2 separate regions of the Homo sapiens genome follow, and region 1 is linked to region 2. Evidence: fine-mapped expression QTL. A gene starts in region 2. The other region holds a variant in brackets. All regions are shown on one strand. Distances are from middle to middle.

Region 1 (4,395 bases), 60 kb before region 2:
AGCTTTCTGATGTGTTCAAGTACACTATGTGTGTTTTTGTGTGTGTGTGGTCCAAATTTTCTGGTTGTCATAGCAGGAGATATGAACTGAATTACTTAGTCCACCATCACTAGAAACAAAACTTGTTACCTTTTTGTTCAATTTGGATAGTTGTGTCTTTTTTCTCTAACATTCTCACCCAAAAATGACCAATTTTATTCATCTTTTCAATGAACCAATATCTAGCATTGCTGACCTTGTTGACTTTTTGCTTTTGCCTATCTCATTGATTCCTACTCTTCCCTAAACTATTTTTTCCTCTACTTCTTTGCATTTATTTTGCCTTTCCTATACCTGTTTCCAGGTGCATTCCTTTGCAGGCCCAGCCCAGAGCTGAAGGTGGCTTCCCACAGTCCCCACATGTGTTGAGCCCTTGATTCTGACTCATGTCTCCTTGCCCACTGCTCCACTTCTGGTTCGCAACAGAAGCATCAGCCATTATCTGCCCACTTCTGTGATCTCCAATCCTCCAATCCTCTTTATGGTCTCCTAACAAATGAGTTATCTCATTGATGCTTTTAAGAATATTTTTTAAAGTTCCCTGAGTTTTTTCAACTCTCTTAGTGAAGAAGGTAGTCTGTATTCCTACTACAGTACTATCAGAAATACTTATATTTTCATAAAAGAAGCACTCTAGATATAAATACAGCCCACATGTCTATCCAAATTTTCACAGATGTGTGATATTGGTCACAGGAGCCCTGGAATAGGTATGTCTCAGGATAAGAGCCCTATATCTTCGGCGAAAAAAAAGCTTACAGTTACATGTGAAAAGTGGTTCATGTTAAAATTTAGCTTTTCCTAAGACATACTTGATACATCTGAAGTCCTCCTTTGGGTAAAGAACAAAATCATTCTCAGTTACAAAAATGGGGAAAAGCTGGGCTTTCAGTGCAATGCCAAAGTGACTACTCCTCCTTTTCCTTTCCTCCTGTGCTTGTACCCAGGGAACACCTGAGCCAGATGCCTTACGCCACAATGTGCATCAAGGAATGCCTCCGCCTCTACGCACCGGTAGTAAACATATCCCGGTTACTCGACAAACCCATTACCTTTCCAGATGGACGCTCCTTACCTGCAGGTCTTAAAACAACTTTTTTTTTTTTTAACAATGCAGCTATGTTTGGATTGAAATGTCTTAACACACTCATGTCTTTAACAGTTATTTATCCTTAGACTCTGTGGAACCTAGGGCCATTCTTATTTCCCAGAGAGGGAGAAAGAGGAGAGAGCTCTCAGGACTATCTAAACAGGCACAGGATTATGCAGGTGCAAAGGTACAGAATCCTGCCATATGGACTGAGGAGTGGGTGAGGAGGCCTTCATGAAGCATCATGGCTTTAATGCTGAACCTTAAAGGACTAGATTTATATCAGCAAAGATGAGAGAGGCGCATTGTTGGCAGAGAGAAGAGCAGACACAAAGCAGCAGGCAGCCTGCCTTCTCCCTTCCCTCAGGCACACCAGCAGGGCATGTCACTGGAGCAATTGCTGTAATCCACCAGACTCCAGGATTCACAGAGGGAAGTTGTGGGACTATACCTGGAGCCATGATGTAGCCAGATCATAGTTTTCTGAAGGCCAACCTTTGTGTTCAGCCTTTCTCAATCAAGCAGCAGATTTAAGACATCTAAGCTGGGTAGCACGATTATAGTTATTTTTTAGAAAGATTAATACATTGGTGGGATGCAAGATGGATTGAAAGATGACATTAGAGATATAAAGGAATGAGCCAGAATTTATCTTTGACCTATGTTGAGGTGTGTTTCTACACCTTCCTCCAATTTAACCATCTTTCAAATACTGGATTTGATTGGGCATTTGTAGTAGTCTAATTAAATGTAGCAATATTTAATTGCTACTGTGCTACCATAGTTGCCCAATAGCAATTAAATATTTGTTTCCTACAAAATCAACTTTACTATTGTAACAACAAAAGGAAAAAATTATTTAGCACTTACTAGGAGCTGAGAATTGTTCCATATGTTTTGCATGTGTTAACTCATTTTATCCACCCATCCTCCTGCCCCCCAGTTCTGCTGTGGAAATACTAGTGTTATGCACATTTTAGCAAACAGGGACAAAAAGGTAAAACTTCATCTCTGGTAAATGGTAGAACTAGGACTTGAACCCAAGAAATGGGACTCTAGAGTGTGCTCTTAACTACTACACTACAGCAACAACTTAAGCTTTCTCTGGGATCTCTCCAGAGAAAGATCTTTGCTATCATGGGGATCTTTGCAATCATCTAGTATCTAAAGAAGTTTCCTCTTTTTAATTCAGTGTTATTTTTCACAT[A/G]GTATTTATTGTAATATTTATTACCTACATAATATTGCATCTATGCACATAATGTTCCACGCACCTAGTTGTTCAAACAAGACAGCTCAGAGTCAACTTTTACTACCTTTTCCCTTAACCTTGCATTTCAATAATACTTAAATCCTGTCAATAATCTCTGGTTTTTTTCAATATCAATAAAATGATGATTTATTGCTGCCTTCCAACACAAGAAAATTATTTTCTCTGCTTCCATTCTAGATCACCTAAGCCCTGTAATCCAGAGTCTTAAAATCCCCCGACCCATACAAAAGCTACATGTTGAAAATGTGAGAATCAGCATGCCTTCTAATTTTTCCCATTCAGGTCCTTTCTGTTTCATGTTCCTTTCACTTTCCTGATCTTGTGGCTTTTGCGGCTGCTGCGGGTAACTTTCTGGGCTTCAGACAATTCTGTTGAGATCTGCATGGATGTTGGTGGAAGAGCTGGCTCCACCCGGCTGACTCAGTTTTAGGCGACTTATACGTCATCTCTGGTCTCCTGCAGTCTCTGCCCTTTCCTCCAAGTGCCTTCAAGGGCTGCACCTTAATCTCCCTCAAGCTACAATGAAGGGACAGGAAGTGCACACGCAGAGTTGCCTTCACCTCACTTTACATTCCTTTCCGCCACACCTTCTTGCCACACACAGAGCTTTCAGGCCTTCACTGGACCTCACGTGCTCATCTGTCTCATTTCCTGTTACCCTGCTTTCCTTCCTGCCCCTCTCATACACACAGGCACTCCACAACTTCACTTTCTTCACCCCAGGCTTGGATGCCTGGATTCATCACTCCAACTTCCCCTTTGGCAATGCCATCAACTTCCTTGAATATTTTCCCTTTCTCTACTGTCACTCATCAGTAATTCAACCAGCATTAAATTCCTCTATACGCTTTCTCTGCCCTGCTAATGGGCCCTTGAATACAGCTATAGCACAACAAAGCATGTGCAAATGGATGCCTCATATCCGCCAGACCCACCTCTTCCCCTGTATTACCCAAAAATCCTGTTTATTTCTAAAAAGAAACATGTTTATGATGCCTGCTTTCTCTCCCACACCTCACAATATCACTTACACATTTTCATCACTCTCTACCTGTGCCTGTGCCATGGCCCCATTCACTCTTGGCAAAAGACCTACTACATTATGTGTGCCCTTCTCTTCATTTGTTGGCCCAACAATTGCCTAGTAAACATCTGCTCTAGGCACTTTGCTTTGTTCTGAGCGTACTATGATGTGCAAAATGTCCAAAAGAAAGCATGTCATCTACCTCCTTCCCCTAAACCTATTCCTCCTCCTGGATTGCTACATTAATGAATGGCACCACTGTCTGTGAGTAATTTTAAGTGAGAAAGATAGAAGTCATCCTCACACCTCCACCATCTTCCTTACCCAGACAGTATCCAAGTCCTAGAATATCAGCTATTTCCTTCTCAACAACCTTGCTTCCATGGTCTCAGCTATTGCCTTTGTCAATCTTCATCTGCCAGAGTCCCCTAGTTTTTATATTTCCATACTTAGCTATCTACAAACCAATCTACTTATAAAAGATAAATCATAAGTCTAGGTAAATTCTAAGTTCCAACTCAAGAAAGCCACTTGGGTGATTCTGTTGCCACTTGTCCCTCCTAAGATCCTACTTATACACATACACTGAAATGCAAAAAGAAATAATCCCATAAAAGTGAAAAGAATGGAAGGAAAGTATTTAACAAACAAAAAGAGAGAGAGAGATTTTAATGAATTTATGAAATTAAAAAAGAAGGTAGGATTGGGCTGCCAAATTAAACAAGAAGAGAAATTCCCAGTTTTAAAAGGCAATGAGGGGGTGGCTGCAGAAAGACTTGCAGAGAGTAGAGGGTGGCTCTACTTTTTAATCCCATAGAAAAGGTTTAGAAATTGTGGTCTTAATAAGCTCAGTAAGGCTGAGCTACTTCAGGAAAAGTGTATATTAATCACCTAAAAGAAATAGTCAATCCTAAAAATTATATTTTATCTTTTAAAAGTTAACTTTTAATTTAGAGCCTAGGGTACAATTAA
Region 2 (4,395 bases):
ACTGAGAATGAGGAAAGTGAGTTCAGAAGGTAGGAGAAGGAACTTGCCTCACTCTGAGCCTCAATCTCTGGCATGTCAGCCAGGCGCGGTGGCTCACACCTATAATCCCAGCACTTTGGGAGGCCGAGGCAGGTGGATCACTTGAGGTCAGGAGTTTGAGACCAGCCTGCCCAACATAGTGAAACCCCATCTCTACAAAAATGCAAAAATTAGCTAGGCATGGTGGCGCGTGCCTGTGGTCCCAGCTACTTGGGAGGCTGAGGCACGAGAATTGCTTGAATCTGGGAGGCAGAGGTTGCAGTGAGCCAAAATTGCGCCACTGCACCCCAGCCTGGGAGAGAGAGCAAAACTCCCCATCAAAAAAAGAAAGAAAGAAAGAGAGAGAGAGAAAGAGAAGGAAGGAAAGAAGGAAGGAAGGAAGGAAGGAAGGAAGGAAGGAAGGAAGGAAGGAAGGAAGGAAGGAAGGAAAGAAAGAAAGAAAGAGAGAAAGAGAAAGAAAGAAAGAAAGAGAAAGAAAGAAAGAGAAAGAAAGAAGAAAAAAAGAAAGAAAGAAAGGGAAAGGGAAAGGAAAGGAAAAAGAGAGGGAAAGAAAGAAAAGTCTCTGGCATCTCTACCTGGATTCCCCAAGCTGGCTGCAGATCAAAACACTAACACTTGGACAGGTTTATAAATGTAAACTCCTAGTTCCAATCTGACAAATTGGAATCTCCAGGAACTGGAGGTCCAGGAATTTGCTCCTCCCAGTTGATTCCAATTCCCTGCCCTGTGTCTAATTAGAAACCTCTGGTCTAGATCCCCAATACAGTAGGAAACTAAGAGATCTTCCTGAGAGCAGGGGCTAAGGTGGTTCCCACCCTGGAGTAACAGGAAGACGAACCATGATCTGAACCTGGGAAGGTGTCACGGCTCCTGAGCCACCCATAGGCATGGCCGGGAGAGCCCTGCCTTTGGGGACACCAACCGCTTAGACACTCGGTGAGGTCTGTCATGTGGCGGTACTCATCTTCATGCTCACTCTCATTTCCTGCCTTACAAATGGAAATCTTTACACTACACACAACAACACGGACGCTGATTGAGCTTTCAATGGATTGCCTACTTCTATGTACTATCCAGAGGTTTTGGATTTCTGCCATTGCCTTTCTGTCATTGCTGAGCTTTTAGCAGAACCTGGTCCAAACTTTGGGCCTCAGAATGAGGAGAAGGTGTCTGTGCCATGCTTGAGCCCTGACTTGGAAGTTGCCCCCACTTCTGAAGTCAGCTTGAAAGGCTGGAGTGAAGGAGAAATTCCGGTGGGAAAGCTGAATGGAAGCCATGGATCCCAGGACATCATCCCCCTGCCCAAGTTTGAAGTCTCCCTCCACAGCCCCCTGGGAATTAGGCCTGATTCTCTGAAAGGAGGGAGGATGTTTTCTTTCTCCCCCACCCTCCCGACCTCCACATACCTCGAGGGCATGTCCAAAAAGCCAGTGGGTGGGAGGCCCTGGGAATTTGTCCATAGCCTTAGCCAACGTCTGCCTCCGCAGCAGCAGGTGGATGAGCTTGAGAAAGCCTAAGACCAAGATCAGCCCAGAAGCCCACAGGCCCAAGGAGGAGAAGCTCAGGGAGAGGAAGCTGGGCACCATGGTTGCAGTTCCAGCCACCTAGCCTTCATCTGACCTGCCTTCAGCTGCTCCTGGGTTCCTTTATACTCTGGACCCATGCATCTTGTCAGCGTCCAGCCCTAGCCACTCCCTGCAGCCAGCAGCAGCCAAGGCTGGGCTGAGTGCCATAAGGCGGAGACAGCAACCTCCAAAACTGCAAACAACAGAGGAGAGAGCCTAGTGGCCTTCTCCCAAAATTCAGCTAAAGAGAAACCTAATAGTGGACTCCAAAAAAAACAGGCAATGGGTATCCCACCTTGATTCCTTAGAACAAACAGATGGCAATTCTTGGTGTAATCATCAGCATAATAACCACTGTCTTCTCATACAAGCACTGTGAATGTTTCAGGCACTTTTTACATACTATCTCATTTAACCCAAACAGCAAGGAGGTCAGAGGCACTCACATTTTATACCCATTTCCCAGATAATGAAGCTGAGGCTCAGCTTGCCTATGCTTTCTCTCAAGAAAGCTTCCAGTGTCCCCTTCAATGTGAACCCTTAAGAGAGCTGGCATTTATGCTAGGCTCGCAATGCTTTGAGTTCTTTTTTGTGAGGCACCTTCAGAGACAAGGTTCTAGCCCCAAAAGGGAAATACCAGGTCAGAAAGGGGCCAACTCCACCCCTAAAACAATAGTGCCATTTTGACACTTAGGAACATAGAACTTTCAGGGTGATGAGAGGTCATCAAATTCAATCCCTCCTGGCTGGATGGAGCCACTTAAGCTCAAGAGAGGTAGGGAAATATCCAAAGTTGCACAGCAAGAAATTGGCAGCTCCCAGTGCCACAGCCCAGGCTTCTGTGGAAGAACAAGTTTGGCTCAGACCACTGCCTTGCCTGGGGAGGGTATGTTATTTGCAGAGGCAGGCAGATTAAAGAAATCAAACAAGATATGATGTGGCATGCAGAGACTTGAAACAACAAGAAATGCATCAATACCCCAGGACTAAAGGAAGAAGGGAAGAAAATCATGATCCTGTAGCTTGGTGGGGGTTGTATTTATGGGGAACACAGCTAGTGCGAGAGAAGTGATGCTGGAACAGTGGAAGAACAGAGCAAAAATGTCCTAAACTCTTTCATCTGCCATCTCCCATCTCCTACTAGTGTCTCCAATCAGCCAAGCCAATCAGAAGTGAAATGGCAAGGAGCCTGGGGAGTCAGTCTGCAGAAGTCAGCCTCCCAGCAAGATAAGAGCAAGGACAGTCTGGCAGGGAGGTGGCAGGAAAAAAACCAGCAATCAGGTGGACTTGGATCTCAAATCTCAGAACTCAGATCACAGGTTCTAATTCAGAGAATGATAAGCCATCAACATGGCTGCCTTATCCCCTCTGGCACAAGAGACCAAGCCTCCTCCTCTGCTGGGGAGACATAATGTCCAATCTTACCCATAGGCAGAGAAAGCAAGAAGAGAGTACAATGAAAGAACTCCAAAAGTGTCTTCTCCATTGGTCTGTCACACTTCCTGAAATTTCACATTTGTGCTTCATTTTATAGGATCGAGACATTGAGTGCACCATTTAAAAAGCAAGTCATGTTGTATCTTTGTTCTTATTGGTTTCAAACAACATCTTTATTTCTGCCTTCATTTCATTATGTACCCAGTAGTCATTCAGGAGCAGGTTGTTCAGTTTCCATGTAGTTGAGCGGTTTTGAGTGAGTTCATTAATCCTGAGTTCTAGTTTGATTGCACTGTGGTCTGAGAGACAGTTTGTTATAATTTCTGTTCTTTTACATTTGCTGAGGAGTGCTTTACTTCCAACTATGTGGTCAATTTTGGCATAAGTGCGATGTGGTGCTGAGAAGAATGTATATTCTGTTGATTTGGGGTGAAGAGTTCTGTAGATGTCTATTAGGTCCGCTTGGTGCAGAGCTGAGTTCAATTCCTGGATATCCTTGTTTAACTTTCTGTCTTGTTGATCTGTCTAATGTTGACAGTGGGGTGTTAAAGTCTCCCATTATTATTGTGTGGAAGTCTAAGTCTCTTTGTAGGTCTCTAAGGACTTGTTTTATGAATGTGGGTGCTCCTGTATTGGGTGCATATATATTTAGGATACTTAGCTCTTCTTAATGAATTGATCCCTTTACCATTATGTAATGGCCTTCTTTGTCTCTTCTGATCTTTGTTGGTTTAAAGTCTGTTTTATCAGAGACTAGGATTGCAACCCCTGCCTTTTTTTGTTTTCCATTTGCTTGGTAGATCTTCCCCCATCCCTTTATTTTGAGCCTATGTGTGTCTCTGCACATGAGATGGGTCTCCTGAATATAGCACACTGATGGGTCTTGACTCTGGGATGCATTTAAAGCAATGTGTGGAGGAAATTTATAGCACTAAATGCCCACAAGAGAAAGGAGGAAATATCTAAAATTGACACCCTAATATCACAATTAAAAGAACTAGAGAAGCAAGATCAAACACATTCAAAAGCTAGCAGAAGGCAAGAAATAACTAAGATCAGAGCAGAACTGAAGGAGACAGAGACACAGAAAACCCTTCAAAAAAATCAATGAATCGAGGAGCTGGTTTTTTGAAAGGATCAACAAAATTGATAGACCGCTAGCAAGACTAATGAAGAAAAGAGAGAAGAATCAAATAGACGCAATAAAAAATGAAGGGGGGTATCACCACCAATCCCACAGAAATACAAACTACCATGAGAGAATACTATAAACACCTCTATGCAAATAAACTAGAAAATCTAGAAGAAATGGATAAATTCCTGGACACATACACCCTCCCAAGAATAAACCAGG

Which allele goes with the higher level. Alleles are on the strand shown, and positions count from the first base shown. SD is a standard deviation of normalised expression in the study named.
In carriers of allele A in region 1, the expression in esophagus mucosa of the gene that starts at base 1,661 in region 2 tends to be higher than with G alone (moderate effect, 0.63 SD a copy in GTEx).

What was found. PIP is the estimated chance that this variant, and not a neighbour inherited with it, causes the effect. A credible set is the group of variants that fine-mapping cannot tell apart.
Region 1: its variant is the best candidate, but not a certain one, in a credible set for the expression of CYP4B1 in esophagus mucosa (GTEx, PIP 0.66).

The regions. Positions count from the first base shown.
Region 1 is chr1:46,856,379-46,860,773 of GRCh38, reverse strand. It overlaps the pseudogene CYP4Z2P. Among named protein-coding and RNA genes, the nearest start is that of CYP4B1, 60 kb to the right of the region's middle. The variant A/G (reference allele first, on the strand shown) is at 2,337.
Region 2 is chr1:46,796,312-46,800,706 of GRCh38, reverse strand. It overlaps CYP4B1 (cytochrome P450 family 4 subfamily B member 1), which reads right to left and starts at 1,661. Exons shown (of 12, transcript NM_001099772.2): 1 at 1,446-1,661. The coding sequence starts at 1,625.